Homo sapiens: one gene and its partners. The protein of the gene in region 3 interacts with the protein of the main gene of each other region in a pairwise test. Each region holds a gene or a part of one and is shown on either strand. Other genes may lie near its edges.

What was found.
Region 1: the proteins of VKORC1L1 (region 3) and PCYT1A interact in binary tests that used the Homo sapiens proteins (3 or more experiments, as listed by UniProt).
Region 2: the proteins of VKORC1L1 (region 3) and LPL interact in binary tests that used the Homo sapiens proteins (3 or more experiments, as listed by UniProt).

Annotation. Positions count from the first base shown.
Region 1 is NC_000003.12:196,234,658-196,245,319, reverse strand, and holds part of PCYT1A (choline-phosphate cytidylyltransferase A), read left to right. Parts: intron 1-2,679; coding exon 2,680-2,758; intron 2,759-3,229; coding exon 3,230-3,372; intron 3,373-5,584; coding exon 5,585-5,773; intron 5,774-6,425; coding exon 6,426-6,632; 3' UTR 6,633-10,662. UniProt on the Homo sapiens protein: Catalyzes the key rate-limiting step in the CDP-choline pathway for phosphatidylcholine biosynthesis.
Region 2 is NC_000008.11:19,940,754-19,951,415, forward strand, and holds part of LPL (lipoprotein lipase precursor), read left to right. Parts: intron 1-7,426; coding exon 7,427-7,587; intron 7,588-10,662. UniProt on the Homo sapiens protein: Key enzyme in triglyceride metabolism.
Region 3 is NC_000007.14:65,942,689-65,953,350, forward strand, and holds part of VKORC1L1 (vitamin K epoxide reductase complex subunit 1-like protein 1), read left to right. Parts: intron 1-5,982; coding exon 5,983-6,092; intron 6,093-10,662. UniProt on the Homo sapiens protein: Involved in vitamin K metabolism. Can reduce inactive vitamin K 2,3-epoxide to active vitamin K, and may contribute to vitamin K-mediated protection against oxidative stress.

The DNA of each region.
Region 1 (10,662 bases), on a different chromosome or scaffold from region 3:
AAATGCAAAGATTAACCAGGCGGGGTGACATGCGCCTGTAGTCCCAGCTACTCGGGAGGCTGAGGCAGGAGAATCGCTTGAATCCAGGAGGCAGAGGTTTCAGTGAGCCGAGACTGTGCCACTACACTCCAGCCTGGGCGACAGAGCGAGACTCGGTCTCAAAAAAAAAAAAAAAAGTAGTGAAATGATAGATCCTGAGGATAAAACTTCTTTTATTTATTTATGTATTTTTATTGATCATTCTTGGGTGTTTCTCGCAGAGGGGGATTTGGCAGGGTCATAGGACAATAGTGGACGGAAGGTCAGCAGATAAACAAGTGAACAAAGGTCTCTGGTTTTCCTAGGCAGAGGGCCCTGCGGCCTTCTGCAGTGTTTGTGTCCCTGGGTACTTGAGATTAGGGAGTGGTGATGACTCTTAACGAGCATGCTGCCTTCAAGCATCTGTTTAACAAAGCACATCTTGCACCGCCCTTAATCCATTTAACCCTGAGTGGACACAGCACATGTTTCAGAGAGCACAGGGTTGGGGGTAAGGTCACAGATCAACAGGATCCCAAGGCAGAAGAATTTTTCTTAGTACAGAACAAAATTGAGTCTCCCATGTCTACTTCTTTCTACACAGACACAGCAACAATCTGATTTTTCTATCTTTTCCCCACATTTCCCCCTTTTCTATTCGACAAAACCGCCATCGTCATCATGGCCCGTTCTCAATGAGCTGTTGGGTACACCTCCCAGACGGGGTGGTGGCCGGGCAGAGGGGCTCCTCACCTCCCAGTAGGGGCGGCCGGGCAGAGGCGCCCCTCACCTCCCGGACGGGGTGGCTGCCGGGCGGAGACGCTCCTCACTTCCCAGACCGGGTCGCGGCCGGGCAGAGGAGCTCCTCACATCCCAAACGGGGCGGCGGGGCAGTGGCGCTCCCCACATCTCAGACGATGGGCGGCCGGGCAGAGACGCTCCTCACTTCCTAGACGGGATGGCGGCGGGGAGGAGGCGCTCCTCACTTCCCAGACTGGGCAGCCGGGCAGAGGGGCTCCTCACATCCCAGACGATGGGCGGCCAGGCAGAGACGCTCCTCACATCCCAGACGGGGTCGTGGCCGGGCAGAGGCGCTCCTCACCTCCAAGACTGGGTGGCGGTCGGGCAGAGACACTCCTCAGTTCCCAGACGGGGTCGTGGCCTGGCAGAGGCGCTCCTCACATCCCAGATGGGGCGGCGGGGCAGAGGCGCTCCCCACATCTCAGACGATGGGCGGCCGGGAAGAGGCGCTCCTCACTTCCCAGACTGGGCGGCCGGGCAGAGGGGCTCCTCACATCCCAGACGATGGGCGGCCAGGCAGAGACGCTCCTCACTTCCCAGACGGGGTGGCGGCCGGGCAGAGGCTGCAGTCTCAGCACTTTGGGAGGCCAAGGCAGGCGGCTGGGAGGTGGAGGTTGTAGCGAGCCGAGATCACGCCACTGCACTCCAGCCTGGGCAGCATTGAGCACTGAGTGAACGAGACTCCGTCTGCAATCCCGGCACCTCGGGAGGCCGAGGCTGGCGGATCACTCGCGGTTAGGAGCTGGAGACCAGCCCGGCCAACACAGCAAAACCCTGTCTCCACCAAAAAAATACGAAAACCAGTCAGGCGTGGCGGCGTGCGCCTGCAATGGCAGGCACTGGGCAGGCTGAGGCAGGAGAATCAGGCAGGGAGGTTGCAGTGAGCAGAGATGGCGGCAGTACAGTCCAGCTTCCGCTCGGCATCAGAGGGAGACCATAGAAAGAGAGGGAGAGGGAGACCGTGGGGAGAGGGAGAGGGGAGAGGGGAGAAGGGAGAGGGGAGAGGGAGAAAACTTCTCTTATGGCCTTCGGTTTGTATTTCTCAGGCCAATAGATGTATCTATTCCAGTCAGAGGGCTCGTGGTTGCTATTTTTATATTCCCTCTTTTCTCACGGACTGAGAGAAACTAGTTAAGAAAGAAGTAACCTCTTTCTCATACTTTTTTTTTTTTTGAGACAGAGTCTTGCTTTGTCACCCAGGCTGGAGTGCAGTGGTGCGATTTTGGCTCACTGTAGCCTCTGCCTCCTGGGTTCAAGCAATTCTCCTGCCTCAGCCTCCCAAGTAGCTGGGACTACAAGCGCCCGCCACCATGCCTGGCTAATTTTTTTGTATTTTTAGTAGAGACGGGGTTTCACCATGTTAGCCACGTTAGTCTTGAACTCCTGACCTCGTGATCTGCCCGCCTTGGCCTCCCAAAGTGCTGGGATTACAGGCATGAGCCACCGTGCCTGGCCTTTCTCATACTTTTAGAAACCCTTATTTGACCAAATCCTTCCAGACCCAGGACAGGGAGATTTCCTTCTTTCCTAGGCTCCACCCACTAACCGGTTCACCAGCAAACCCTCTGGCCCTATTGACCACAGCAAGATGACTGGTATACAGAGTGAGGGTAACAGTTCTAGCAGACTAGGAGAAATAGCTACAAAAGCAGCTGGCTAACTTCATATGTATACTCCATAAATCATTAGGTTGGGTGGTTTGTGAATAGATTGTAGAATTTATGAGCAAAGCAAAGAGAGATATGAAGTCCACTGAGGCCTGGCCTCTGCCTATTGTCCTTTTTCTGGGCCTGAGAACATTGACTGGGTCTTTCTGAATGGCAGTTATCATGGGTTTTAATGATGTTTCCTTATTTTCAGATTGATTTTGTAGCCCATGATGATATTCCTTATTCATCTGCTGGCAGTGATGATGTTTATAAGCACATCAAGGAGGCAGGTGAGTGAGCTGTGCTTCCTCACTGTAGGGGATCTCAGGGCAGCTGCAGATGTTCAGCCATGTTGCTGCTTTACAGAGGAAAATGTGTACATTAGAAATTCAACATCCTCTTTCAGGCCACATTTTGGATAAAAGGTAAAGATGAGCATAGCACCCATCAATTCTTTGTCGTCAGTTCATGACATCCATCAATTCTTGGTCTAAACATCTACTTTGGATATCTCTCTTAATTTCAGGAAACCCTTTCTCATATTTTTCTTAATATTAGGGCTATGTAACTCTTCTTTGCCTTACCTCTGGCCTTTGATTCGGTCTACCTTCTGTATATCAGTATCTTTCAGTTTCATTTAGTAATAACAGATTCTGCTTTTTGAGGAAAGGAAAGGAATGTTGCCCCCAATTTCCATTTAGTCTTAATACCTGAGCTAACCAGAACCTCACAGTGTTTGTCTGTATGTGTTTCTGAGTTAGGCATGTTTGCTCCAACACAGAGGACAGAAGGTATCTCCACATCAGACATCATCACCCGAATTGTGCGGGATTATGATGTGTATGCGAGGCGGAACCTGCAGAGGGGCTACACAGCAAAGGAGCTCAATGTCAGCTTTATCAACGTGAGTTCCAGCCTTACCCCAGAGTTCCCTGACTCTGTAGGAGACATATCACCTCCCACTCCATCTCAGCTGAACTGGCTTTGCAGTTGGCTTTGATGATCACTCCCAAAAGTTCAGTGAATGAATTACCACTATGTTAACTGTTCACAAAAAGAATGAAACAGACAGTTTCTGCCGTTACGGTCTGGTACCAACACATTCGTATAAAGCCATACAGCCAACTAAATAAATGAGTAATTTATATAGTGCAGTATTTCTGTCAATAAATGGAAAACGGTGTCTCTTAAACTTCCTCTCTCTTCTTCGGTTGGATGATGTCTTGGGAACCTGCGAAAGGCTATGAGCCCTCCTCGTGTGGATAGTGACACCCGACACACCACTTCCCACACAGACCTGAGTTTTAAATTTGGATTGACGAAAGTTAAGTTTATCTTAGCTTAATATTGCCTTTTAGAAACTCTATATATTTTTCTGGGCATGGTAGTTCATGCCTGTACTTTGGGAGGCTGAGGCGGGAGGACTGCTTGAGGCCAGGAGTTTGAGACCAGTCTGGGGGCAACATAGCGAGACCCCATCTCTAAACAAACAGACAAACAAAAAAACTAAAAAAATTCATGCAAATATATATATATGTAGTGTTTCTTTCTTTTTGAGACAGGGTCTCGCTCTGTCACCGAGGCTGGAGTGCAGTGGCGTGATCTCGGCTCACTGCAGCCTCTGTCTCCTGGTGCCTTAGCCTCCTGAATAGCTGTGATTACAGGCATGTGCCACCAGGCCTGGCTAATTTTTTTTTTTTTTTTTTTTTTTTTTTTTTTTAGCAGAGATGGGGTTTTGCCATGTTTGCCAGGCTGGTCTCAAACTCCTGGCCTCAAGCGATCGGACCCCCTTGGCCTCGCAAAGTGCTGGGATTACAGGCATGAGCCACCGTATCCAGCCAACACTATACATTTTGTATGTAAATTAGACCTCAATAAAATCGATTTAAAAAGAAGAAAGCTGCTAACTTTAATGTCTTCTACATAACCAGTTTACCATGCTCCCTGACCTACTCCCATCTCTGTAAATTGTGCTATAAGAATGGATAAAATGATTACATCTAAATATGATTTATCTAGGCAGATAAACCCTAGCTCTTGTTAATTTACTTACTATAGCTTTATTTTTCCCATAAAAATCAGGTGTTTAAAAATTCTAAACATAATCCCTTTTCTCTTTATGATCTGGAAATTTTGAGAGTACTTTTCTTTTTCTTTTTTTGAGATAGAGTCACACTCAGTCATCCAGGCCAGAGTACAGTGGCGCAATCTTGGCTTACTGCAGCCTTGACCTCCGGGCTCAAGTGCTCCTCCCATCTCAGCCTCCTGAGTAGCTGGGACTACAGGCACAGGCCACCATACCCAGCTTATTTTTTATATTTTTATTTTTAGTAGAGATGAGGTCTTGCTATGTTGTCCAGGCTGCTCTCGAGTTCCTGGCCTCAAGCAGTCCTCCCACTTCGGCTTCCCAAAGTGCTGGTATTACAGGCATGAGCCACTGTGCCTGGCCAAGGATACTTCTCATTTGACTAAATACTCCCTTCCCTTCCACCGGAGGGTTTATACCATTTTCCTTATCTTTAGCAAAGTTGGTAAGACCAACGAGTATCATCATTTTGCAAATGAGTAAATGGACCTTAAAATACTAAAGGAACAAAAAGCAAAAAACACAATTCATTTAAAATAATAGAATAAGCCAGTGATAGAGGGGAAAAATCCAGTACAATAAGCAGATTAATTAAGTAAAAGATCTAGTATTTTCTCTTTCAATCTATTGTAATTAGTTTATTCTTGGCAGTATTGTGCAGTGATCTTTTAGCTGCCTCTGTATCTCCGTCTGGAATGAGGTTCGGGCCATGCTGCGCATGTTTATGTTCCAAGTTTATGTTTTATCTTTAAAACTCTGACTTTATTTGGCTACGTGCCTGTTACTGGGTATAGCCTATATTTTTAGTTTATTCCCAAATGCCCACAATATTAGAATTACCACTTCTTGTGTGTGCATCCACAGCATATCTTATCTGTTATTATGCTGAGAGTGGGGTAGATTAAAGCAAAGCAAAATTCTAGACTGAAAACAGTGTCAATTGAGTGCTTGAGCCATGTTTTTTCGTTCTCTTATGGTAGAGAAGTTTAGGATGAGCATTATTTCTCAGAAGAGTTATTTCTTTATCTAGGAGAAGAAATACCACTTGCAGGAGAGGGTTGACAAAGTAAAGAAGAAAGTGAAAGATGTGGAGGAAAAGTCAAAAGAATTTGTTCAGAAGGTGGAGGAAAAAAGCATTGACCTCATTCAGAAGTGGGAGGAGAAGTCCCGAGAATTCATTGGAAGTTTTCTGGAAATGTTTGGTCCGGAAGGAGCACTGGTATGTTCTTTCCCACTGGACAATGTAGGGAGTTCCATGTTGTGGAAAGAATGACAGAATCATTGAGCAGGAAGGGGCATCGACACTGAGAAGTTATCTAGTCTATCCCCTTATCTGGGCAGAACTATCTTTCAACTGTCCCCAGCAAGGTTTTTGAAACCTTTACAGAAAGACGTTACACATTCTCCTAGATAATTTTGCCAGCTCTCTCTCAACCTTAAAGTCTGGTGACAAGATAAGCAAGTCGCCTTGCCCAGCTTTTATCTGTGGTATGATTTTAGATAGAAGGAAAGGAAAGAATAAAGAACAATAAAAAGAAAGCAGCCTCCACTACAAGTAGCTGCAGCAGGAACCCCAGGTAAGGTGGGAATTCTGTCTTTGAGGAGTAGCAGTCTTTTCAACCAAATAAAAGATTGAGCAAGTGAGTCCTAGGTTAGATATCAGGAAGGATCTGTCTGTGAAGGTGTTTGGATAAATTAGAATAATCCTAGACTAGATTATTGAGGAAGAATGGGGAATTTCCCGGGTGATGACAGCAGGGGAGAACCCTTAAATAAATAGTACAGCATAGACTATCCCAGTCCTAGATGCTTCAGTGATGATTAAGTAGGATCCACGGTGTTTTTCTGACTCTTCCTTTCGGTTTCTGCAGAAACATATGCTGAAAGAGGGGAAGGGCCGGATGCTGCAGGCCATCAGCCCGAAGCAGAGCCCCAGCAGCAGCCCTACTCGCGAGCGCTCCCCCTCCCCCTCTTTCCGATGGCCCTTCTCCGGCAAGACTTCCCCACCTTGCTCCCCAGCAAATCTCTCCAGGCACAAGGCTGCAGCCTATGATATCAGTGAGGATGAAGAAGACTAATGTTTCCTCCCTCCTTTCCTGTCCTCCCTTTCTGTCCCATTACCTTCAGAAGCTCTCTGTTGAATTCCAAATTGTGACCCCAACACTAAACCTAAGGACAGCTACAAAGGAAAGACAACTGGGGAAAGAAGACCTAGGACTGGGGGAACCCAAACAGCCTGTCCTGCAAGTGACATCACTCACCCACACGAAGGAGGGGGACTGCACCTTAGAAGCCTGCTCTGCATCCATTTACCCCCCCCCAAGGGCTTTGTTTCACTGTTTATGTTCACGTGATCTCAACAGGGAAATTGTCATTTTCATTAATTTTTTAAAAAATTCGTCTTTCAAATGTAGAACTAATTTTTTGCCCCTGAGGAGTGGGCAGAAGAAGGAGGTAGTGTAATACGCAGAGGCCTTTTCTTCCCGGTATACTATAGCATTTGCCTTCCGTTCTGAAGCTATGTGGCTTGCCAAGTCCTTCACGAAATGAGCCACGCTGATGGGTAATTTGTGGAGAAATATCTTAATTTTGATTTCCTTAAGGAAAAGCGAAAAGCAGAGTTACAGTCACAAATCCCCTGAACGTACTGCTGTCACCAGTGTCATTGTGGCTGCGGGAAGGAGATCTGAACCTAACTTTTCTTACTCCCTGAGGAGTTTCTTGTTGGACCCAATGGGGTCCATGAAGACACTGATGGGGATGGAAGCAGACCCATGGCATCAACTGCAGTGTTTCTGCTGTGTTCATCTTCTCAGAAAACTCTGTGACCCAGTTCTTTGGGAGCTTTTGTCAGTCTCTTTCGTGCCATCTACCTTCGAAGGAAGGAACACTTTTAGAGTTACAATGATGAGGAGAGGAGCGGGACAATACTCAATCCTATACCAAGTCGATTGAGATTAGTTTCCTACTGGGAGTAAGTGCCTGGCCCTGCTACTCCTATTTGAATGCTATTAATATTACCTAGCCTTTTACAAAGGATACTTTGTAAATGTCTGCTGTTGGAACTTGATGTTAATCCATTTTGGTCATAGCCATATTAGAGAGATTTGCACAGAATGTAAAGGCAAAAGCATAGGAAACACCTTCCTTTCTAAAGCAACAGCCTTATCACCTTGACCTCTGTCCCTCTTCAGAACATTCTTCCCTGGAACCAGTGCTCCACATCTTTCTTTTCCTCTGAGAGCTGCAGCTGGCAGGGACCTCCCTCTGCTGCTCCTCCAGCAAGCCACAGAGCATACCCTCACGTGACAAGAGTGTGGTAGGTTTTCTCCCCACTTTTCACACACGCCTGGTGGTTGTGGTTCCATCTGCCTTGTTGGCTTGCCCGGGGGGATTCAACACTTGACTTTCAAATCAAAGAATGCTAATGCTTAGCACTTGCTGTTGAGCATGCTCTAACTTTTAAAGCCCTGGCCTCCTGTCTCCTTAGCTGCTTAGCTACGCGGCCTAGCAGATCATCACCCATCAGTAATCCTGTGGCTAGATCCAGGGGAAAATTGCTTATGTCCAGGCCCCACCCCTGTCACTCATAAATACCCCTTGTGGGGGTGGAATTTTAGTGTTTTCAGCTAAGAAAACCACATTTTCTCTTTCCTTGCCTCTGCTAGGACTGTGAGCATCTCATAGTCCACTCCCTAAACACTTTCTGGTAACACCTAGTTTTCCGCCTGAGGGTCAGAGGCTAGAATCATTGCCTGCACAGCAGGACTACCTTGGTTCTTAAAACTTGGATCACCCAGGCAAGGCGTGGTGGCTCACGCCTGTCATCTCAGCACTTTGGGAGACTGAGGCTGGTGGATCACTTGAGGCCACGAGTTTGAGACCAGCCTGACCAACGTGGTGAAACCCCATCTCTACTAAAAATACAAAAATTAGCCAGGCGTGGTGGTGGGCACCTGTAATCCCAGCTACTTGGGAGGCTGAGGCAGGAGAATCCCTTGAACCCAGGAGGCGGAGGTTGCAGTGAGCAGAGATGGTGCCGCTGCAGTCCAGCCTGGGTGACAGAGCGAGACTCTGTCTCCAAAACAAAACAAAAACCACACACACATACAGAAATAAAGAGAAATAATCAACTAGAAAAAAAACAAAACTTGGATCACCCAGAAAGAGCGTCACAGAGGCGAGGGAGAATGAAGCCTCTTGTTATCCTGATCGCCTATGACAACGACATTTCTAACTCTTCTTTGAAGCGCAGTTCTTACTCTTAAATCTGGTCATACAAGCTTTGGCTTGGAATCCTGTCTGTCTTTGAAACAGCTGAAGTTAGTGTTTTCCTGTGTTACCCAGTGTTACATAGTCTCATCTTTGAACTTTTCTGCGTCAGCCTTCTCTCTTTGGGAATGCTGCCTGTTTCTGTCTAACTTATTCTCCCTGGTGTGGTGTGGCAGTGAAGTCTGTGCTGAAGCCCATCTGCTTGGTTCCTCCAAGTGCACATTATGCAAGTGTATTTGGATAGACAGGGAGATGCCCGGAACGTGGTTTTCCTCCTCCCTCCCTATTGGAGCCATACCTCCTAAATATATTGTCTGGGTCCCAAATGTTTGAGCCCTCTTCCTCTGCTCTCAGTGGGCTGCTCTTGGCATGCCCTGTGCTTGGAACGGGACCTGCAGGCTGACAGGCCTCTGAGACTGCTAGGGCCAGCAAACGTACATGTTATTGGGAAACTCCCTTTCCCCTTTTGGTGAGCTTCTACCACCTCAGTCTAATCGTTTTGACTGAAAGCTATTTGTCTGACTGAAAGCTAAAATCTTTTATAGTGTGGCCTGTTAGATACTTTGGGGTAAATGTGGTCTGAGGTGCTGGACTAGCACGGGTAGATGGAGAAAGCTGTTGGGAAGTTGCATAATGTGGTCATCTGTGCCTAATTAAATGAGGTTAGAGGTGTGCACACCACCACAATGCCTGGGATCTAAATCTTCAGATATTAACGTTTGAGGCTATGGAGCTGTTTCCCTGAATCACACACGAGAAAGCAGTCAACATGGGTGGGCCAAATGTGGCCAAGATGAGAGAGCCAGAAGTGTTGGCCTTAGAGCAGAGCCTCTGTGTGTGAGACATTAGAAGGCCAGAGCCGGGGAGGTGCCGGCGCAGCCACTGCCTTCCGGTGGGCCGGACGGAAAGCTTGGTCTTATGCTAGATTCAGAAGCACTGAAGAATGGAGGTTGACACTTTAGAGGACTAGGAAGGGATCATTTGTGCTCTTGCAGCTATTGCTGATAGCTAGAGCCAAAGACCATTATATTGCTGAGGCTTGGGTAAGAAAGTTAGGGATGTGAGGAGGTTGAAAATCCTGAAGAAGAGAAAAAATATGAGGGAGGCTAAGGAAACTTAGCCACTTTCTGATCACTGATGACTCCTTAGGCTGCACCTGAGTGATGGTGGTGTTTTTGGAGGCTGTACCTGAGTGATGGTGGTTTTTGGGGGGCTGCACCTGAGCGATAGTGATTTTTTTTTGGAGGCTGCACAGCTGGTCAGACCATCTCTAGATGTTCTTTCCACAGTGGTTCATAGGGCGTCATTCCCCCTTCCTGGATTATTTTGACTATGGGTAGCTTATTTTCAAGAGCTCTTTGCCTTTTTAATCCTGTTCCAGATCACTTATCCAAAATCTTTCCAAATCAATTATATTTTGCTGCTTTTCTTTAATTCCCTAAAAGCCATAGCTTCTAGATTTTCTATCAGCACACATTCTCACCAGAAGTTGAACCAATACAGGTAGAAAAAGAAAGCCCCCTTAATGTTTTTAACTGATGATATTTTTTTAAGCTTACCAATATAAGTATTTTTAAAGGTTCTATTTTTCAAAGTCATAACAATGATTGTTCTTGTTTTCTCTCATAGAATAGACTGCCATCGGATAAAGAGTGGTCCCTAGCTTCTATTTTTCCAAGTAAATAAGTAGAACATGTTCTTGGGATTATACCATTAAATGTTAATTTTCTTGAAGAAGAAAGATTGTTGTCTGCCAAGATTTTATGTTAGCGCTCGGATTGAGGCAGAAAACGGAAGCACCAGGTTTAACACTGGGATGACTTGGGTTGTGTTCCT
Region 2 (10,662 bases), on a different chromosome or scaffold from region 3:
TTTATTTTGGCATTAATTTGTGAAACATTTTTGTTAGGTTAAAAAACAAAAAGTTGGCAGGGAGCAGTGGCTCACCCATGTAGTCCCAGCACTTCGGGAGGCCGAGGCCGGAAGACAGCTTGAGCCCAGAAGTTCGAAATCAGCCTGGGCAACATAGGGAGACACCGTCTCTATAAAAAAAAAATACAAAAATTAGCCGGGCGTGGTGGCCTGTGCCTGTGGTCCCAGATAGTCAGCAGGCTGAGAGATCACTTGAGCCAGGGAGTTTCAGTAGACTGCAGTGAGCTGTGATTGCCCCACTGCACTTCATCCTGGGTGACAGTGAGACCCTGTCTCATAAAATTAAAACAAAACAAAACAAACACTAAGTATAGATTCCATCAAAGCAAAATTGGATAAGAAAAAAAGTATCTTTTCTATTGGATCAGTTTGAAAACACTGGAGAGTTGATGAGAAAGTCTTCAACATCTTAGGTGGGGTATGTTTCGTATGTTTCCCTTCGTACTGCTTAATGCTGACAAGAAGATGGTAGGAGCCAACTCCAAATTCTTATTTCAGAAAGCACACCATAGAATAACGTCATTTTCATTGCAAAACAAGCACCGAAATATGTCATCACATTCAAGTTTTTCCTAGGCTCCCTTACAGGTTCAAGATCCTAAATTCTTGGGAGTCAGTGTCACCTCTCTGGGTTTAGGTTCCTCAACTCTGCAATGAGTTTGGATGAGGCCAATGTTCTCTGAGCCTGGTGTAACTCTTGCCTCTTTAAGTGGACACTTATGTGATTAATTAGTTTAATTGAGTTGTAGCCAACACATGCTTTTCCTAGCTGTAAATATATTAAGGAAGGATTATTTCCAAGTAGACTGGAAACGATGCCCTCCCATCCCCTCCACTTTCACTCTACTCACCCAATATATCATGCCTCTCCCATCACAGCAACTTTCTCCCTCTTTCTCCTCCAGATGCATTCATCTAGGAAGGTAAGAATTTCAGGGAGAGAAAGATGTCACCGTGGTAGAAAGACAGGGATCACCTCCTCTGGGCTCTTGAGTTTACTTATTCATTCTGGATTCTTTCTAACAAGAATATGAGGACAAGAGGCACTGTCCTCAGGCACTTCGTCCTGGGAGCCACCACCATCTCTGCATGGCCCCAATTAGGAAACGTGAAGAGCTAGGAGAGGGAGAGTATGGTCAGTGCTTAGCAGCTGAAGTTCCACTTGCCTGGCCATCGTGAATTTCCAGGCTGTCTTCTGAGTTGAACATGATGGCAAAGGAGAGCAAAATAGCAGATGTCACTGAAGGAGAGCTCAGCGAGGGAGTGATTGATTAATAGCTGTATTGAAAGGTGGGAGTCAGGTACGGGGGAAGAGCGGCGATGGAAAATTTTCGCTTTCTTTCAGCAGCTTATTTTTAACTCAGCTTTCTGTTCTTGCTTTATTATGGAGGAAAAATTGGGCCATAGAGTTTACTGCCTTATGCCAGATTGTTCAAGAAAATGCCTTGCAACTTACAATATTTTGCAGCTAGTTTCTTCCGTGACCACCACAAAGACTGCATTGACTTAAATATGAAGATGTTCCAGCCATCAAAATGATGGTTGGTGATGATTTTGGATCACAAAGTGTAAGGAAAGTATTCAAGACATGAGTATCATGATTTTTTAAGGTCTGGATGAAGAGACCATTTGGATTTACTAATAAGGTAAATTCCAACTTTTATGGCAATAAAAACAACAAAAACACTTATCAGTGTAAAGCTTTGGGATCATCTATCCATTAAATGAGTTTGTCACCACAGTGAACTAAATACCTTTTATCAACAGAGACTTTCTAACCTGGGAGTAAAATTCTTGTCACAGTGCTTTTGTCACATTCTGTCTTTGCAAAAGTTGAAGGCTCCAATAGTTTCTGAAGGACTAATAGGATAGGGTTCCAACTTACTCAGAGGCTAAGAGTTTGAAATTTACTCTGAACGATGTCTGTTCACTAGACTGCGTGACTGCAGTTTGCTGTCTTGTGGCCATTTTAAGATTGTCTGTGTGCACTGACACCATTTGCGTACTCAACAACAGGTATCTACTAGGAAGGAAGGAATGGATTATCTTAGGTGCTATATATATATGTAAGTTCTGCCGGAAGTGAGCCTATTAAACTTGTGCCAATTCATTCCTTTTGCTCTTCCCAGTCTGTGCTCTCAGAATGATCAAATGCTATCTAAGTAGTGTGGTGATTTTGACTGTTTGAATGAATAAACGAAAACGTCTCCCACCATTATTTGACAGTAGAATAGAACAAAGATGACCCAGTTGGCGTGGCCACACTGTGTCTAATCCAGCCACCTTGCTCACAGCACTCAACCCACTTTGGTGTGTGCGCTCATCTGTATTTTCGTAAATGTTGAAGTCTCTTTCTATGCAGTCAGGTAGGGGTAATACCATTCTGGCTTGGATTAATTTGAGTGTAGTACAAAGTTTAGAGAAGCTTTTAAGTAGCATGAAAAGTCAGATGCTTTCGGAGGGATGGTGGTGAATGTAGGTAAATGGATCTGCACTTAGAGATCCTCAACAGCCCTTCATTCAAGATACAGCTATCATGACATCAATAATGTACCTTTGAAAAAAAATTGGCTGCAGAATTAATTACGGTGAAAAACAGTATAGGAGTTAGCACTTACATTTTAACTAAAAAGAATAGCGTCCCCATGTTTATTCAGCCCTCCCTCCAATAAAACAATTGTTGGCAAAGTAATCATGGACTTTCATTGTGTTAGTTTGAGACAACTGGATGTTTCCATTTGCCATCCTCAGCAACAAGAAGAAAGTAGTCTCAGATTAACCAGGTAAGTATTTTGTATTTCACTTAAAAAATCTTGACTGAAATATGCCTATGTGATGACACTCAACCAAATTATTTCATTAACCAGTCCACAAGATCTCCTTAAATAATGATGGCTTATTCACACTTGATGGTCTCATTCAGTGGGGCAATTTTAATACACATCTCTGAACCTATTTTTTAACCCCTCTTTTTCAGTAGTGTGGAAGGTTAGCCCTAATATTGGAGAAAATTCAGGGTAAAATTCAGATGATTCATACAGGATTTATTTTTCCTATTCCATTAATAAAACAACTTTTATAAAAATAAAAAGTAGGCTGGCACAGTGGCTCACTCCTGTAATCCCAGCATTTTGGGAGGCCGAGGCGGGTGGATCATGAGGTCGGGAGTTCAAGACCAGCGTGGCCAGGATGGTGAAACCCCATCTCTACTAAAAATACAAAAATTAGCCAGGCGTGGTGGCAGGCACCTGTAATCCCGGCTACTCGGGAGGCTGAGGCAGAGAATGGCTTGAACCCAGGAGGCATAGGTTGCAGTGAGTCACGATCGTGCCACTGCACTCCAGCCTGGGTGACAGAGCAAGACTCCGTTTCAAAAAATAATAATAAAATAAAATGAAATAAAGTAAAGCTGCATGTTAGAGAAGTCAAGAGCATTACTTACGTTAGAATATCTGAACAGACCAATCAATTCAGTCTGATCATGATATTGATGTTTTTCTTCACCAAATCGACCACATCAGTAATTCACTTTGTTCTTCGATATCCTACAGACACTGCCTGAGTCGATAACTATGACTATCAGTCTCAGAGAGCAAATGAATTACTGAGGAAGCCCTGTAGGAGTGAGAGAAAAGGGGGGAGAGAGAGAGAAAGGGGTGGGGGGATAACAGGAGAACAGAAATTCCAAAGAGAATTGCATTCTCATTGAGTTCTTGTACCTCATGTCATTGCATAAATGTTCATCTTACTCACGTGATGACTTTGATCTGCCTTTAAAGCACCATCTGCTGCTTTCCTGGGATGCTCAACACTTCCCTCTTTCTAGCAACAAGAATTACCACTCTTCCCCTCTATACATTTATCTTTCTCTACGTGCTTTAACTTCTCAGCCTAATTTCGTCTCTGTGAGTTATTATCTATGTTAGAATAAATTCTTTGTCTTTGTTTACACACTCAGATTTGTAGTTATTTATTTAGGAATTTAGGAATAAAGATTCCATAGTCAGGAAAGGCACAATTTATAACTTGCGTGTTACCCAAAACTCTCCCCTAAGGGCTTAATATGGACATTTCTGACGAGGCCTGATGGGCAGGTGGTACGGTGATGCTAAGTTAAATTCAGAATGAAGGCCTGCCTTTCCTTCCCTCCTTCCTTCCCCTTCCCCTTCTTCCTTCCTTCCTTCCTTCCCTCCATCCCTCCCTCCTGTACTCCTCTTCTTTCTCAATTCTAAGGTGGCCTTAATTTCTAAGGGACATGGCAAAAGACAGTCTAGTTGGATGAGTGCAGTCACTAATATTATTTCCATGTATGGAAAATAACTGTTTCCTTAGTAACAATTGCATCAAATCAGTTCACCTGCTGCCCAATAGCAATCACAGGATGCATTGGGACAAATAAATATACTGACTGCCCCACAGCCACATGGTCTAAGTCAGTTACTGGAGAGCTGACTGAAGTTTGGGAAGCATATTCATCTTACGACACTGAGACATCCTCGGGGGGTTGCAAACACAGGTAGTGTGAAAATTATCAGAACATCCAAGAAAAGGAAAGTTTGACTAAGTGCCGATAAGATTTATGATGTCATGTCTGACATAGAATTGAAACCATCACAGAGCACATAGAGTGGTATATTTTCCTGTCAAATGAAAATCATTTTCTTTAAAAGTGAAATGAAAGTCTCTAAATACAAATTTACTAGAGGATGTGTAAATTTCCTACTTTTCATTACATACTCTGGACCCAACAGAGGGAAATTGGAGCTGTCAGTGAGCCATACATGCAATCTGGTACAGGATCTATGGATTGAATAGACTTTTTTTCATGGAACTACACAAAGCCAGTCTTAGTCATTTCAAAGAAAATTTGTGGTCATTTCAAAACCACCAGCAATTCCAGGGACACCAAGTTGCATAATTCTAGGGGAAAGTGGACTAAAAGTGAATGGCAGCCTCTGGAGTTATACTGAGCATTATTCTTAAAATGTCAATTTGGCAAATAGGTGGTAAGCGAGATCTGTCTGCCAGATTGTTCACATCATCTCTGCTTTAAAAAGATTGATCATAGAATATGTTAAAATAAGACCTGTGGAGAGGAGGTATGAGCTATTTAAGGTGGAAAGGTGTGGGAGAGGGTGAAATTAGTTTTAAATTTTCTAAAGCACTTTTTAACAGGAAAAGAAGTTCTTGGGCACTGAAGGCAGAATTAGATTAAAAGTATTCAATACTCTTCCATTATCAGAGAAATAGTAAAGCTACTAGAGTGCTTTCTGGTTGGGAAGGAAGAAGGCTACCAACATCTTCAAATAAAGATGAGAAGTAGAGCATATTCTTGGTGGATGAATGGATTCACGTGTACTTTTACTATATGCAAATGAAAAGAGCTTTAAAGATCAATAGTTTAGCAAGACTCTTATTTGAATAAGTGATCTTGGAGTGTTTACCCATTGTAACAAAACTCCTTTTCTCATAATTAGAATCATTAAGAAATTTCTCCTACATTTTAGATGACGGAGGTGTGTGTGCACGTGTGTGTGTATGTGTGTGTGATCAACTCATTGCATATTTCTTAAACCACAATATTGTTTAAGGAATTTTAGAAAATAATTACTCAATAGGAAAATGTTGGCCAATCCTCAGATATTTAGATAAGGCTGATTCAAATGCCTATTCTTTCACTGTTCTCACTATGACACTCTTATTTTTATTATTGGCCTGACTTCCGCAGTTATTTTGAAGTTACAGATTTTTAAATTTTGAGTTGAAAAAAAAGAGCAAATTTAGATTAAGGAATGAGAAGTAGTCCTCGCAGCCTCATGAATCTCCTGAAATTTCGAACGGCAAAATCTAAAATCTACAAGTTATTACCTTCTTACAGTAAATAGGTGGGTGTTATGGGTCGTTTTCTTTAACTTCTTTACTTGAAAAGGAATTAAATGATTTCCCTTTAACATAACTTCCCTTTGATTGTGCTCTGCTTCATGAAGTCTGATTTTATTTGCAATATAATTTACTTCAACTATTCACTGTACCCCATGAAGATTCAGCAGCATTTATAACTATTGTCCATAGTTTCAAAAACTAGGTTGTCTTTCTCTTCTCACCAAGTTTGGGATTAACTATGAAGAACCAAAGTGAACCCTTTCAACAACAAGGTTTGCTGTGGTTTTCAAGTTTTGCCTTTGTGTGGAACATTGTAATGACATAGTGGGAAAAGAAATATTTGGGGAGAGAATTAACCATGGCTGATACATAGCACGGGTATTTCTGAACAACCTACTAAATTATTTCTTAGAACATTTTGAAGTATATCTTGCCATAGGAGTGGGAACAGTTTCATACAAAAGCCTCCTCATGCTTCCAACTTTTCTTTAAAAAATTTTTTTTAAATTATTTTATTAAAAATAGAGGCCCGGCCCGATGGCTCACACTGGTAATCCCAGCACTTTAGGAGGCTGAGGTGGGCAAATCACTTGAGGCCAGGAGTTTGAGAACAGCCTGGCCAACATGGTGAAACCTCATCTCTACTAAAAATCCAAAAATTAACCAGGCCCGGTGGCTCATGCCTGTAATCCCAGCATTTTAAGAGGCTGAGGCGGGTGGATCACTTGAGCCCAGGAGATAGCGACCACCCTGGGCAACATGGCCAAACTTCATCTCTACAAGAAATACAAGTTAGCCTGGCGTGGTGGCACGCACCTGTGGTCCCAGCTACTCAGGAAGCTGAGGTGGGAGGATCACTTGAGTTCGAGGGTGCAGTGAACCAAGATCGCACCACTGCACTCCTTTGGCCTGGGACACAGAACAAGACCCTGTCTCAAAAAACAAAACAAAACAAAACAACCCCCCCCCCGCCCCACACACACACAAATAGTGGAACTATAGCACACAAGAGCCATGCATGAGTCAGTGTTCTCCACGAAAGCAAGCTTCAAAGTGGAACTGAGAGACCGGGCTCTGATCCTCACCCTCCCACTAATACCAGGGTAGCCTCAGCCAAGTCACTTAAATTCATGTCTTGAGAGAAGACAGAATTAACTAAGGAATCCCCAAACAGCAGTTCCCTTAGTTGAAATCACAAACGTACACACACATACCCTGACTAAGGAGAGCTTCAAGAAAGGCTGGAAGACTTAGGAGAGGTCAATGGTGACAATCTTAATTCAGAGTTAAGGTTGTCTCTCTGTCAACTTTGCTCAACGTTGGAGCATCTGTTGTTCTCTTGCAATCCACATTCGTTTTCGAAAACACTTCAGAAACAAAAATAGCATCAGCGGTGGTTGCCTGTGAACCTAAAACATATCATTCCAATGAATAAAATCAAGCAACCCTCCAGTTAACCTCATATCCAATTTTTCCTTTCCAGAAAGAAGAGATTTTATCGACATCGAAAGTAAATTTGCCCTAAGGACCCCTGAAGACACAGCTGAGGACACTTGCCACCTCATTCCCGGAGTAGCAGAGTCCGTGGCTACCTGTCATTTCAATCACAGCAGCAAAACCTTCATGGTGATCCATGGCTGGACGGTAAGGGAGGCTCTTTGGGGAAGAGTGGATTGGGGTGGTGAGGTATCCTGACTGGCCTGCCCAATTGTTGGGGACCCAGTGATGGGTCCGCACCCCACATCTCACGTGGATCTCCTTACACTTGAATAAAGACAGTTCTGGCTCAGGTGGGATCTGAAGCCACAGGTTCATGAGAACTCCCCCTAGGCAGTGCCAGCCTTCATTTTAACACTGTACCTGGTTGGTGCCCTTGAGCCAGAGCTTCCTGCGAGGTTGGTAAAGGATGCTCTGCCCAGCTACTGAGCAGAAGATAGGTGATTGCTGTGGGGAACCGGTGGAACCCTGGCATGATCCCGCATCACCCAGCACATTGCCAGGAGAACCTTTCTAAAGAAGACAGCATGGAAGAGTGAGGAGAGGGCTGGAGTGGAGTGAGGAAGTGTGGCGTCCATGCTGGCTTTGCCATTCTCCAGCTCTGTGCTGTGGATCAAGTCACTTGTCATCTCTGGGCCTCCATTTACTGATCTGTAAAGCAGAGGTTGCACTAGATGTCCCTAAAAACACTCTACTTCCAAAATTTTCCAGTTGTAAACTTTAGGGAGCCTTTCTGGAAATTAAAAAAAAAAAGGGCTGGGCAGGGAACTGACATGCTGACATGCCAGATGATTAGAAAAAGTGAAACTGTGATTAAATTTACTTTAAAAAATTGTTAAAAGTCCCCTCTCTAATATGTCACACAGTCACTTTAGATTATGTAGTTCTTGCTTAGTTTGTTTTAAAATGTTTCAATCCCAAGTGAGTAGACTGTGTAATTTATTTAAAAGGATTTGTGTAAAATGGCTTGTTAAAGATATATTATCTATCCATTATGTCAGAGCTTGTGAATATTATAATACTAATTTCTAGTGAGAACTAACTAAAAATAACATTCATCTAGTCCACATTTCTTTTCCTACATAATTTAAGTGGCTTTGTTATTGACTGAAGAGGACAATCGCTACAATTTTTATAGAGATGAGACTACTACTAACAGAATTCACACAGATGTTTAACAAAATATAGCCATTTACTATGTTAACATAGTAAATTCAATATTTTGTGATAAAATCTCAAATTCCTAAACATAAATCCTTTAATATTTTAATAGGTGTAAGTAGGAAAAAGGAATCTTTTTCTTTTTTGAGATGGAGGCTCACTCTATTGCCCAGGCTGGAGTGCAGTGGCGCGATCTCGGCTCACTGCAACCTCCGCCACCTGGGCATAAGAGATTCTCCTGCCTCAGCCTCCCGAGTAGCTGGGACTACAGGCGCCCACCACCACACCCGGCCAATTTTTATATTTTCAGCACAGGCAGGGTTTCACCCTGTTGGCCAGGCTGGTCTCGAACTCCTGACCTCAAGTGATCTACCCACCTTGGCCTCCCAAAGTGTTGGGATGACAGGCGAGAGCCACTGCATCTGGCCCAGAAAAAGGAATCTTTAGAGGCCCTTTGGTTATATACAGAACTTGGATTTTAAAATTTTTCAAAAAATCTGAGCTTAATAAACGCATTTATACAACAGAAATAAATTGAGTATCTCAGTCATCTCAATCTTATCCCTGAGAGAATTTTATACTTTGGGAAGTTGTGGGAAAAAAATGGTTCTTTTTCATACTAAGATGACATGACCAACCCAATATCAACAGACGGTGCCACTTCCTATCATTGGTCCTACTGCCTCACTAAGCCCACCTGTATCTTTCACATCATGTGTCCTGACATTTTGAGTGCTTGAGCACAGAGACTGCTGTCTGGCTGTGGGACTGAGTTGGGTCTGTGCAAGAACTAAGCCAGCCACACTGATCTTGATTATCTCAGTGAACTCACTGGCAGGGTCAGGTGGCCCACCTGGTATAGGCAGCAGGGAGGGCTTCAGTTCAGCTGCGTGTCTGAAAACCAAAGATTTAAAACATAGTAATTATTGAACCTCAGAAGAAAAACTCAGATTGAAAGAACTTAGAATAAGACCCTTTTTGAGTTGAGAAAGGTGAGTACTTAGATTTTTCATTTGCTTTGTTTGGGATTACTTACATCAGTATTTTATGTTGATCAGAAAGAAAGGATTCAATTAGCTATTGTTCGGTTAATAAAAATGTCAGCCACTGTAGGAGTAAGTTGGATGTCCAGCCTTTTTAGATTGCTTAACTTGGAAACACTGGGCTGGGAGCGGTGGCTCATGCCTGTGATCCCAGCACTCTGGGAGGCCAAGGCAGGCAGATCACTGGAGGTCAGGAGTTTGAGACCAACCTGGCCAACATGGGGAAACCCAATCTCTACTAAAAAAATACAAAAAAATTAGCCAGGTGTGGTGGTATGTGCTTGTAGTCCCAGCTACTCAGGAGGCTGAGGCAGGAGAATCGCTTGAACCAAGGAGGCGGAGGTTGCACTGAGCTGAGATCATGCCACTGCACTCCAGCCTGGGCGAGACAGTAAGACTCTGCCAAAAGAAAGGAAAGAAAGGAGGGAAAGAAAGGAAGGAATGAAAGGAAGGAAGGGAAGGAGGAAGGGAAGGAGGGAGGGAGGAAGGAAGGAAGGAATGAAGGAAGGAAGGAAGGAATGAAGGAAGGAAGGAAGGGAGGGAGGAAGAAAGGAAGGAAGAACAAAGAAAAGAGAAACACTGGTAGTACAGAAAAACTTCTGATAGAGGCCTAGAGTAAACCCGATTTTCTTGCCTTATCTGAAATAAGCTGCCTGGGGACTCACAGGCACAGACGAAGGGAAATGAGGAGGCTCTCCAGCTGTGTCATGAGACACCCAAAGGAATGCTTAGCATGTAGCATGCATGTGATACATCCCAGCAGGTTGCTTAGACACAGCTATCTTGGAGCTTTGCCACTTGCTTGGATGTCACTGGCTTTAAGTACAGGGTTCCCATTGTGAAGTAGGGGATCCTGGCTGAAACAGGGAGACATTAACATTACATTCTGAAGAAATGACATCAACCTCTCCTGATCTTGAAAGCCAACTACAAAGGGTGCCCAACACCCCAACCTTGAAGGGAGGCGAAGGTGAGTGGGACTGGACCAATTCAACAGGGTTCTGCTCCTAGCCAGGTG
Region 3 (10,662 bases):
ATAATTTTTGTATTTTTAGTAGAGACGGGGTTTCGCCATGTTGGCCAGGCTGGTCTCAAACTCCTGACCTTAAGTGATCTGCCTACCTCGGCCTCCCAAAGTGCTGGGATTCCAGGCATGAGCACTTTTAACATGCTGGGGAAAATGATGTCTGGACCGTGCAACTTGGTGTTGTGTTACTGTCATTCTTCTATTTACTGATCGCCTATGACTTGATTTACTCTACAGAATCTTGTTAGAACAGATCATTCTGGGCTCTGTGTCAGACAATATAGTGATAACCATATAAACAATATATACTGATAGAACCAAAAATTTTGATATAAGTACAAATTATGGTATAATTGGGAGGGGGATAGGGAAATGAAAGTCTACGAAATCATAGTCTAGTTTAGCATACAGTGCTAGATGATCCAAAAATAATAAGTGGCCAGGCCTGGTGGCTCATGCCTGTAATCCCAGCACTTTGGGAGGCTGAGGTGGGAGGATCACTTGAGCCCAGGAGTTCGAGACGAGCCTGGCCAACATGGCGAAACCCTCTCTACAAAAAAAAATGTTTTAAATTTAAAAACAAAAATAATAAGGAATTTTTGTAAAAAGAAATTTGTGGGTAAATATTGAGAGAAACCAGTAAAATGAGTTGCTTCTAAGGAGGATACCTCAGGGGTCAGAAGAATGCTGCTTTTTGTTCCAAGTCTTGTAGCACTATCTGATTTTTTTAAACTATATATAACTGTAATAACATTAAAAATAATGAAAACAGCAACTTACCAAATAAGTTTACAAATCTTCCACTAAGTTCCTCAGAGCATCTTACATGTACCCATCTAAGCCTCATAATTGTTTCTCCCACCTTTTTAGACTTTCCAAGGTCCATTCTTCCTTTTTAATGGTCAGGAGTTCGAGACCAGCCTGGCCAATGTGGTGAAACCCCAACTGTACTAAAAATGCAAAAAAATTAGGTGGGGTAGTGGCAGGCACCTTTAATCCCAGCTACTCAGGAGGCTAAGGCAGGAGAATCCCTTGAACCTGGGAGGTAGAGGTTGCAGTGAGTCGAGATTGTGCCATTGCACTCCAGCCTGGGCAACAATAGTGAAACTCTGTCTGAAAAATAAATAAATAAAAATAAAGATAATTTTAAGATTATTGTTTTAAAGAATAAATGTTGATATTCTTAAGGTGGTAAAAGCAAGATAATGGCATATTTATTAGTAACAAAAATTTAAACAACAAAGAAAAAGCAAATGATTTCCAAAATATCAATAACAAATCAGTAAATAAAGGTAATCAGAAGTTTAACTTCCTTGTGGCTGGGCACAATGGCTTGTGCCTGTAATCCCAGCACTTTGGGAGGCTTCAGTGGGCGGATCACTTGAGGTCTAAAAACTACAAAAAATTAGCCAGGTGTGGTGGAACATGCCTGTGGTCCAGCTACTTGGGAGGCTGAGGCAGGAGAATCACTTGAATCTAGAAGATGAGACCAGCCTGGGCAACATGATGAAACCCTGGCTCTACCAAAAATAAAAAAAATTAGCCCTGCGTGGTGGTGGGAGCCTGTAATCCCAGCTACTTTAGGAGGCTGACACAGGAGTCTCACTTGAACCCGGGAGGCAGAGGTTGCAGTGAGCCGAGATAGCACCACTACACTCTGGCCTGGGTGACAGAATGAGACTCTGTCTCAAAAAATAAAAATAAAAGAACTAAAAGTAATTCTCAAGTGATGAGTATGTAGAGGTGGAGATGAAACAAGAAAGGCGTAATTATTGAAGCTGGGTGATGGGTACCTGGGTTTTTTTTGTTTTTTTGTATGCGTTTTGTTTTTATAGTACCCTTTCTCTTTACCATAGCAAAATAATACATGGGTGTTTATTACACTCTTGTGCTCACTTTGTGTATATGCATTTGAAGTTTTCTATAATTTTTTTTTTTAAGAAAAAGCAATATTTGGCTGGCCACAGTAACTCACACCTGTAATCCCAGCATTTGCAGAGGCCAAAATAGGTGGAATGCCTGAGCTCAGGAGTTCGAGACCAGCCTGGGCAACATGATGAAACCTCATCTCTACCAAAAATACAAAAATTAGCCAGGCACGGTGGTGGATGCCTGTGGTGCCAGCTATTCGGGAGGCTGAGGAGGGAAAATTGCTTGAGACTGGGAGGTGGAGGTTGCAATGAGTGCAGATTGCACCACTGCACTCTAACATTATTGACAGAGTGAGACCCCGTCTCAAAAAAAAAAAAAAAGCAACATTCTGGCTTACCATATTAGCGAGTCAAAAGATAATATTTAGGGCTGGGTGCGGTGGCTGATGCCTGTAATCCTAGCACTTTGGGAGGCCAAGGCGTACGGATGACCTGAGGTCAGGTGTTCAAGACCAGTCTGGCCAACATGGTGAAACCCCATCTCTACTGAAAATACAAAAATTAGCTGGGCGTGGTGGCGGGTGCTAGTAATCCCAACTACTCAAAAGGCTGAGGCAGGAGAATCACTTGAATCCAAGTGGTGAAGGTTGCATTGAGCTGAGATTGCGCTGCTACACTCCAGCCTGGGCGACAGAGCCAGACTGTCTCAAAAAGAAAAAAAAAAATAGCAATGTAAACATATTATTTAGAAATGTGGAAGTAAATAAGAGTGAAAACAGGGCCGGGCGCAGTGGCTCACGCCTGTAATCCCAGCACTTTGGGAGGCCGAGGCGGGCAGATCACGAGGTCAGCAGATCGAGACCATCTTGGCTAACACGGTGAAACCCCATCTCTACTAAAAATACAAAAAAATTAGCTGGGCATGGTGGTGGGCGCCTGTAGTCCCAGCCACTTGGGAGGCTGAGGCAGGAGAATGGCCTGAACCTGGGAGGCGGAACTTGCAGTGAGCCGAGATCGCGCCACTGCACTCCAGCCTGGGCGACACGAATGAGACTCCGTCTCAAAAAAAAAAGGTGGAAACAGTTAACAGACATCAAAGTGGATGCCTCTGGGATGAGAACTGACTTGGGGAGGGCTGGAGGAGGGAACATCTCTGTATTAGAAGGCTTTGATTTTATTTTATTTTGAAACCTTATGCATGTATAACTTTGATAATATATTCATTTGTGGATTGCCACATTGTTTTCGAGGAAAATACCCATGTGATCTTACATGAATAATCAGGCATAGACCAGTGCTTTGAATATATAAAAATTCTGTTTAGCCATGATAATTTTGGCAGTATGCCATTTATTTCTGTTGCCAAAGGCAGTGATTTAAATTGGAATTCCTGCCTGGGATGAGTAGGGCTAAGAGGTTTGATTACATATAGTTTCCCCATCTGTACTCTGGCCTCCAGCAGTTTGTTCTTTATGCAGCAGCGAAGAGTGATCATAAATAAGCTTATCTCACTCTCCAGTTTGAAAGCTACTAAACGTCTTTCATAGCAATTAGAATAAAATTCAAACTCTTCGGCATGGCCTACACACAAGGCCCTAAATAATGTAAATGATTGGACTCGCTCCCAGTTCTCCTGTCACTCTCCTCAATCACCATGCCCCAGCCTCAGTGGCCTTCCTTGGCACACCCACAGCTCATTCCTACCTCAAGGCCTTTGACTTGCCATTGCTCATGAGACCGATTGCTTACCATCACTCAGGATCTCATTCAAAACTTCATTCCTGGAAAAGGTCCTTCCCGACCATCAAGCTAGAGGAGCTTGCTGCACCCCTTCTCTGCCCACAGCTATGGATCTCCAAGTGTGGGCTTCAGACCAGAAGCGTCAGTGTTGCCTGCAAGCATTTCATTTTGTGTTGTGTTTTCTCTGGAAATGCAGAGTCTTAGGCCCCACCACAGACCCACTGAAGGAACAGCTACATTTTAACCAGACCCCAGAGTGATTGTGCTTTAAAAATTTCAGAAGCACTGATCTAGAGTTTCCCCTTCTAATTTTCCTGTGTATCTGTTACAAGGTGTGTCCATTGCTGCAGGTAATCTGGCATTTGTTTACCTGTTTATTATTTCTCTTCCCTAAATAGAATTTAAGGTCCACAAGGGCAGCACCTCGTCTGGCTCGTTCACTTCTGGATCCCCGGCACGTAGCGTCAGTGCACACAGTACATGCTCAATAAGTATTTAGATGAGTGAAAGAATAAATGAATATAATGGAAATTATTTTATGTTCTTTGAAATGTATAACTGAAGGCTGGGTGTCATAGCTCAGCCTGTAATCCCAGCACTTTGGGAGGCCAAGGTGGGAGGATTGCTTGAGTCCAGTACTTCAAGACCAGCCTTGGCACATGGCAAAGCTGCAACTCTATAAAAAAATACCAAAAAAAAAATATATATATATAGCTGGGTGTGGTAGTCTCAGCTACTTCGGGAGGCTGAGGCAGGAGAATCACTTGAACCTCGGAGGTCAAGGCTGCAGTGAGTCATGATTGCAACTGCACTGTAGCCTGGGCAACAGAGGAACATCCTGTCTCAAAAAAACAAAACAAAACAAAACAAACAAAAAGGATTGCATAATTCTACAATAAAAATCTTCATGGCTTTCACTTGTTTGTAAAATCGGGGTGATTTTTCTCTCCCAACATCATCGTTATACAGGGGTTTCATTCTATATCTTGGGCATCAAGTGCTATTAAACTATTGTGGCCTGTGAAGAATTACTTATTTATCCTTGCTTTGGGGCAGTTTGTCTTCAGAACCAAAGTTTAGATTTTGTTTAGACTGATTCTCTACTGACTTAACACCATAACTGGTTTTTTTTTTTTTTTTTAGTATTTAAGAAGCACTCTCGTTCAATCCAGAGTTAACATTATCTTTAAAGGTTTTTTATTCAAAATGAATGTTTGATATTTGTATCAAGTTTTATCAAATAAGTTAACAATTTAAAAAAAATCAGGTTTTAAAAATGTTAAGTCAAATGCAAGATTTAAAGTTAAATTGCAAATAAAAACTGATAGGGCATATAATGTATCCAGTTTTTTACATCTGAGATAGGATTCCAGGAAAGACCTATAGTTTCTGATATTATCCTGCATTTTTTTTTTTTGAAATGGAGTTTTGCTCTTGTTGCCCAGGCTGGAGTGCAGTGGTGCAGTCTCGGCCCACTGCAACCTCTGCTTCCAGGGTTCAAGTGATTCTCCTGCCTTAGTCTCCCAACTAGCTGGGATTACAGGTGCACACCACCATGTCCGGCTAATTTTTTGTATTTTGAGTAGAGACGGGTTTCACCATGCTGGCCAGCCTGGTCTCGAACTCTTGACCTTGTGATCTGCTCGCCTCGGCCTCCCAAGGTGGTGGGATTATAGGTGTGATCCACGGGCCCGGCCCTACATTTAAAAAATACATTCCCAGTATATTTCTTAATGCATATCCTGGTGAAATTTGTGAAGAAACAACTTTTCAATCTATATTCTTTGAGTGAATAAATAGCACAACTTACATTCTATGGTTTTCAACTGGGGGCAGTCGTGTCCCAGCGGATGTTTGGCAATGGCTGTGACTGCATTTTTGGTAGTCACACCTGGGATGGAGGAGTACTGGCAGCATCTAGTTGGGGGAGCTCTGGGGTACTGTTAGTTATGTAATGCACAGAACACCCCACAGCACAAAGAATTATCTAGCCCAAAATGTCAGTAGTCCACTGTTAAGAGACAGTGGACAACTGTCTCCTTCTGCATAGAGAAGTCTCCTTCTGCAAATACTAATGCCATTGGAAAACGAATACTTTGCCCTACCTTCTGGAGAAGAGAATATATAGAAATTGGCAACTGAGAGATTCAGATGGGTATACTGGCACCTTTAGATATGTTCATTTTAGATGATTATTTCTAATCAGAAATCTAGTGACTGGCCTCCCTCTCTTTGGGGCAAATCACTCTCTCAACACAGGACATTTAAGACATTTCACAACTTAGTTGATTTTAGAATTGGATAACGTTCTCAAATAATGATACATTTTTTAAAATAGGGAAATTCAAATATAGGGTTACTGGTTTTCCTTATTTTACAGATGGGGTCGAGGATTTGGTCTTTTGGGTTCCATTTTTGGAAAGGATGGTGTATTAAACCAGCCAAACAGTGTCTTTGGACTTATATTTTATATACTACAGTTATTACTTGGTAAGTATTTATCAATACAAAAATAAGTTTGTTATATTCCGTTTAGTACTTTGTGTCTTTGCCCTGAAGTGTCTTGATGTTAAAGCATGTGTTATTTATAGAACCACTAGCGTGTACAACATTTTTGTGTTATGAAAACTTGATTCACTGAGATTTTTATTATATTATTGTTGAATTTATGTCAATTGCTGTTTAATCATGGAGAGCAGTATCTCATGATGTCCAGAAAAACCAGTCCCATTCCAGGAAATTATCACTCCCATCTTCCCTGTTAACGTTTTTCCTTATTTTATAGACTCAGTGGCCTTGAAAAATATCATATATTAAGGGGACATTAACAAGAAACCATATTCATAATCCCATTACCTTTACATATCCACTATTTCCACAGTCTTCTGCTTTTAAAAATAATTTTTGGGCTGGGTGCGGTGGTGCACACCTGTAATCCCAGCACTTAGGGAGGCCAAGATAGGCAGATCATCTGAGGTTGGGAGTTCGAGACCAGCCTGGCCAACATAAAGAAACCCTGTCTCTACTAAAAATACAAAATTAGCTGGGCGAGGTGGTGCATGCCTGTAATCCCAGCTACTCATGAGGCTGAGGCTGGAGAGTCACTTGAACCCGGGAGACGGAGGTTGTAGTGAGCTGAGATCGCGCCATTGCACTCCAGCCTGGGCAACAAGAGCGAAACTCCGTCTCACAAAAAAGAAATAAATAATAATAATAATAATAACTTGGGGCCAGGTGCAGTGGCTCACACCTGTAATCCTAGGACTTTGGGAGGCCGAGAAGGGCAGATTACTTGAGCCCAGGAGCAACATGGTGAGACTCTGTCTCTGTAGAAAATACAAAAATTAGCCAGGTGTGGTGGCACACACCTGTAGTCCCAGCTACTTGAAAGGCTGAGGTGAGAGAATCACTTGAGTCCAAGAGATGGAGGTTGCAGGGAGCCGAGATCACACCACTGCACTCCAGCCTGGGGGTCAGAGCAAGACGCTGTCTCAAAAACTAATAATTTAATGTGAACTGTGTTTCAACATAGTGTCGTTTATCCTAAGTGTTATTGTTAACATCTAGGTTTCACTCCTTTTACTTCCAAATAATGCTGCAGTGATCAACTTTGTTTAAAGACCTCCTGCTCCTTCCTTCCTTTGAATTATCTCCACAAAATAAATTTCCAAGCATAGTATCAAAAAACACAGATATTTTCAATTTTAATCAGTGTTACCAATTTGCTTTTCCCTCAGTTCTTTGGTTTCCCTGAAGCTCCAGCGGTCTTTATTTTTAAGACATGCTTTGTAAAATTTCTTTTTTTTTTAATTGTAACGATAATCTTCACCTGGAAAAATTGCTAATAGTTACACATTAGTACCTATTACTTTAATTTTTACTCTTTTTAATTTCCTTTTATTGCCCATTTAGCATTTAGTTATTGGATCCCGATACTAGTACATTTTTATATGTGTTACAAACATTTTATGCATTCTTTATCCTTTTTTGTTAGTGTTATGAATTTGTATTGTATTAAGTTTTTATACTTTTAGAGTTAAATCCATCTGTTGATGCCTTTGCATTTTATTTTTCTTCTTTTTTGTAGATCTTGTTGCATACCAATGCTTTTGTATTTTAATTGTTAATATTCCATTACCTGTCAGCTCTTCTGATTTGGTTCATTAAAAATACATGTAACTCTTCTATCTGAAATTGATTTGTTATGAGGCAAATTATAAATCTAAATCATCCTCAGTAGTTCTGTCGAGTTTGCCCAGTTCCATATCTATGTATTTATCTTGCAGAAGTAGAAAGATGTGTGCACAAGGATATTCATAGCAGTACAGTGTAAAATAGCAAAAAAAAAATGGAGGTAGGTTACAAATAGATAATGGTTGAATAAATTAGAAAATACTATGAAATACTATGTAGCCATTAAAGGAAAAAGGAGATCTATGTTTATATCCTAGAAAGATAAAGACACTATTTAGTGAAAAAAGCAAATTTTGGTATAATAGGTATAGGATAAACGTGTTTGTATACATGCATGTAAATGCATAGAAAAGGGTCGGGTGGTTGGGGAGGAGGGAGAAATTTCACTAGGTATTCTGCATGTTTCCATTTTGCTGGATTTCTAGAGAAGAATATGAAGTATAAGCCCAGATGCAAGATGTTTTCCTTTAAAGGCAAAGAACCTAAGAACAGCCTTTGACTAGATTAACTCTTGAAGATAGAGGTGTGACAGCCAAATTTTTGTTTTACCATTAATTTAATGCCATGGTATATACATATTTTAAATCATATTTATCACATGTGTTTTTTCATTCGCATTTTTTGACTCGCATTTAGATGCTTCACGTGCCTTTTAATGTTGGTGTCTTCATGGGAGGCACATTTGAACTAACCTAGCAATTTCCAGAGCACAGCATCTGTACTCCCTTCTAACCTGTTTGAGACACAGCATTTTTAATTTAATTTTTTCATAGGTAATCCATTCACGTGGTTCAAAAGTTTTTAAAAAGGACCGGGCACAGTGGCTCATGCCAATAATTCCAGCATTTTGGGAGGCCAAGATGGGTGGATCACGAGGTCAGGAGTTCAAGACCAGCCTGGCCAACATGGTGAAACCCCATCTCTACTAAAAATACAAAAATTAGCCAGGTGTGGTGCCGCACACCTGTAATCCCAGCTACTTGGGAGGCTGAGGCAGGAGAATTGTTTGAACCTGGGAGACAGAGGTTGCAGTGAGCTAATGTCGCACCATTGCACTCCAGCCTCGGTGACAGAGCGAGACTCCTTCAGGAAAAAAAAAATATATATATATATACATATATAAAATGTTACACAAAGAAAAATCTATCCCACCCCTTCCCTTTATGCCTGGTTTCCAGTGCTCCTCAGCCCCGACTGGTAGCTTGTTATTGTCTCTTTATGCATATACGAGAAAGTACAAATACACAATCTTAATTTTCCTCCTTTTTAAAATATAAAAGGCAGATGCTATACCCACTGTTCTGCAGCTTGCATTTTCTTTTTTTGCCTGATGAATATATCATGGTGATTTTTCCATATCAGTATATTAAATGTCTTCATTCTTTTCTACAGCTGCAGAATAATCCATTGCATAATTGTACCATCATTTATTTAGAGTTACAGCACATTTTAAATTCCACTGGGAATTTGACCCTGAGCCAAACGTACCTAGCTGCATTACAGTAGCATTTAATGGATATCTGGTATTTATACACTATTCTAAGTGCTTTAATCCTGCATTATCTCAGCTCATTTAATTGCCCAGCAGTCTTAAGAAGTAGGCATGATTGTTATCCCAATTTTACAGTTGAGAAAAGAAAGGCATAGAGGAAGAAATAAGTTGCCCGTATCATTCTGAAGTTAACTTTCTTAGGTAAAATTGTGACCACATTAATTTCGAAATGTTAGTTGTTTAGCATAGGTGAAGTCAGCAAACTTTTTCAGTAAAGGGCCTGGCAGAAAATAGGCTTTGCCAGTTGCCGCAGCCACTCAACTCTTCTAGTATGAAAGCAGTCACAGACATTACGTAATGAATGACATTACATAAATGAATGAGCATGGCTGGGTGCCAATAAAACTTTATTTACAAAAGCAGGTAGCTGGCCAGATTTGCTAGTCCCTGCAACAAGTAATTCAGCAGCACCTTAGTCTTGAAGTGCCCTATGAAAGCATCTAGGCCCGTGGCTGTGCGGCAGCCGGCCCACAGGCGTCTTCTTGTTGCATTTTTTTTTTTGCCAACAGGGCCCAGGATTTCAGCTCTTTAACTGACTTCTTTATACCTGCTCCCACCTGTTATTTTGTTCCTGTTTCTGTTATCCTTATCCATGAGTCATTGGGTAGGAGGGTAGTTTAACATGCTCTGCCTTCTCTGTCCTTGAAAATAAATGCACATATTCTCTATACTGTTGCCTATAAGAAATTAAAAACAATACATGTGAAGATAGAGTCCAGAATTCAGGTGCCTTTTTTTTTCCTTTTTTTTTTTTTTTTTTTTTTTTGAGACAGAGTTAAGACTCTGTCGCCCAGGCTGGAGTCCACTGGTGCAATCTTATCTCACTGCAACCTCCGCCTCCTGGGTTCAAGTAATTCTCGTGCCTCAGCCTCCCTTGTAGCTGGGGTTGCAAGCGTGCAATACCATGCCCAGCTAATTTTTTTTTTCTCTTGTACTTTTTAGTAGAGAGGGGCTTTCACCATGTTGGCCAGGCTGGTCTCAAATTCCTGACCTCAAATGATCTGCCTGCCTTAGCCTCCCAAAGTCCTAGCATTACAGGCATGAGCCACTGTGCGTGGCTTCAGGTGCCTTTTTGTATTGAGAGCCTGGATTTAGCACACATGTCCACCATTTTTCTTGATCAGGTTTGACCCACATGCAGCCAACGGGCAAAATGTGGTTTCCCTTATCCACCAGGGTGAGCCCTTCCTGAAATGTTTATCAAGAGTTTCTTTTTCTCTCTTCAGCAGCTTGTTGGTGTAGTCACCTCTCATTGTGGATTTTTAATCAATTTGATCTAAACATGGAAAAGCAAATTTTACTTTCCACAGATGG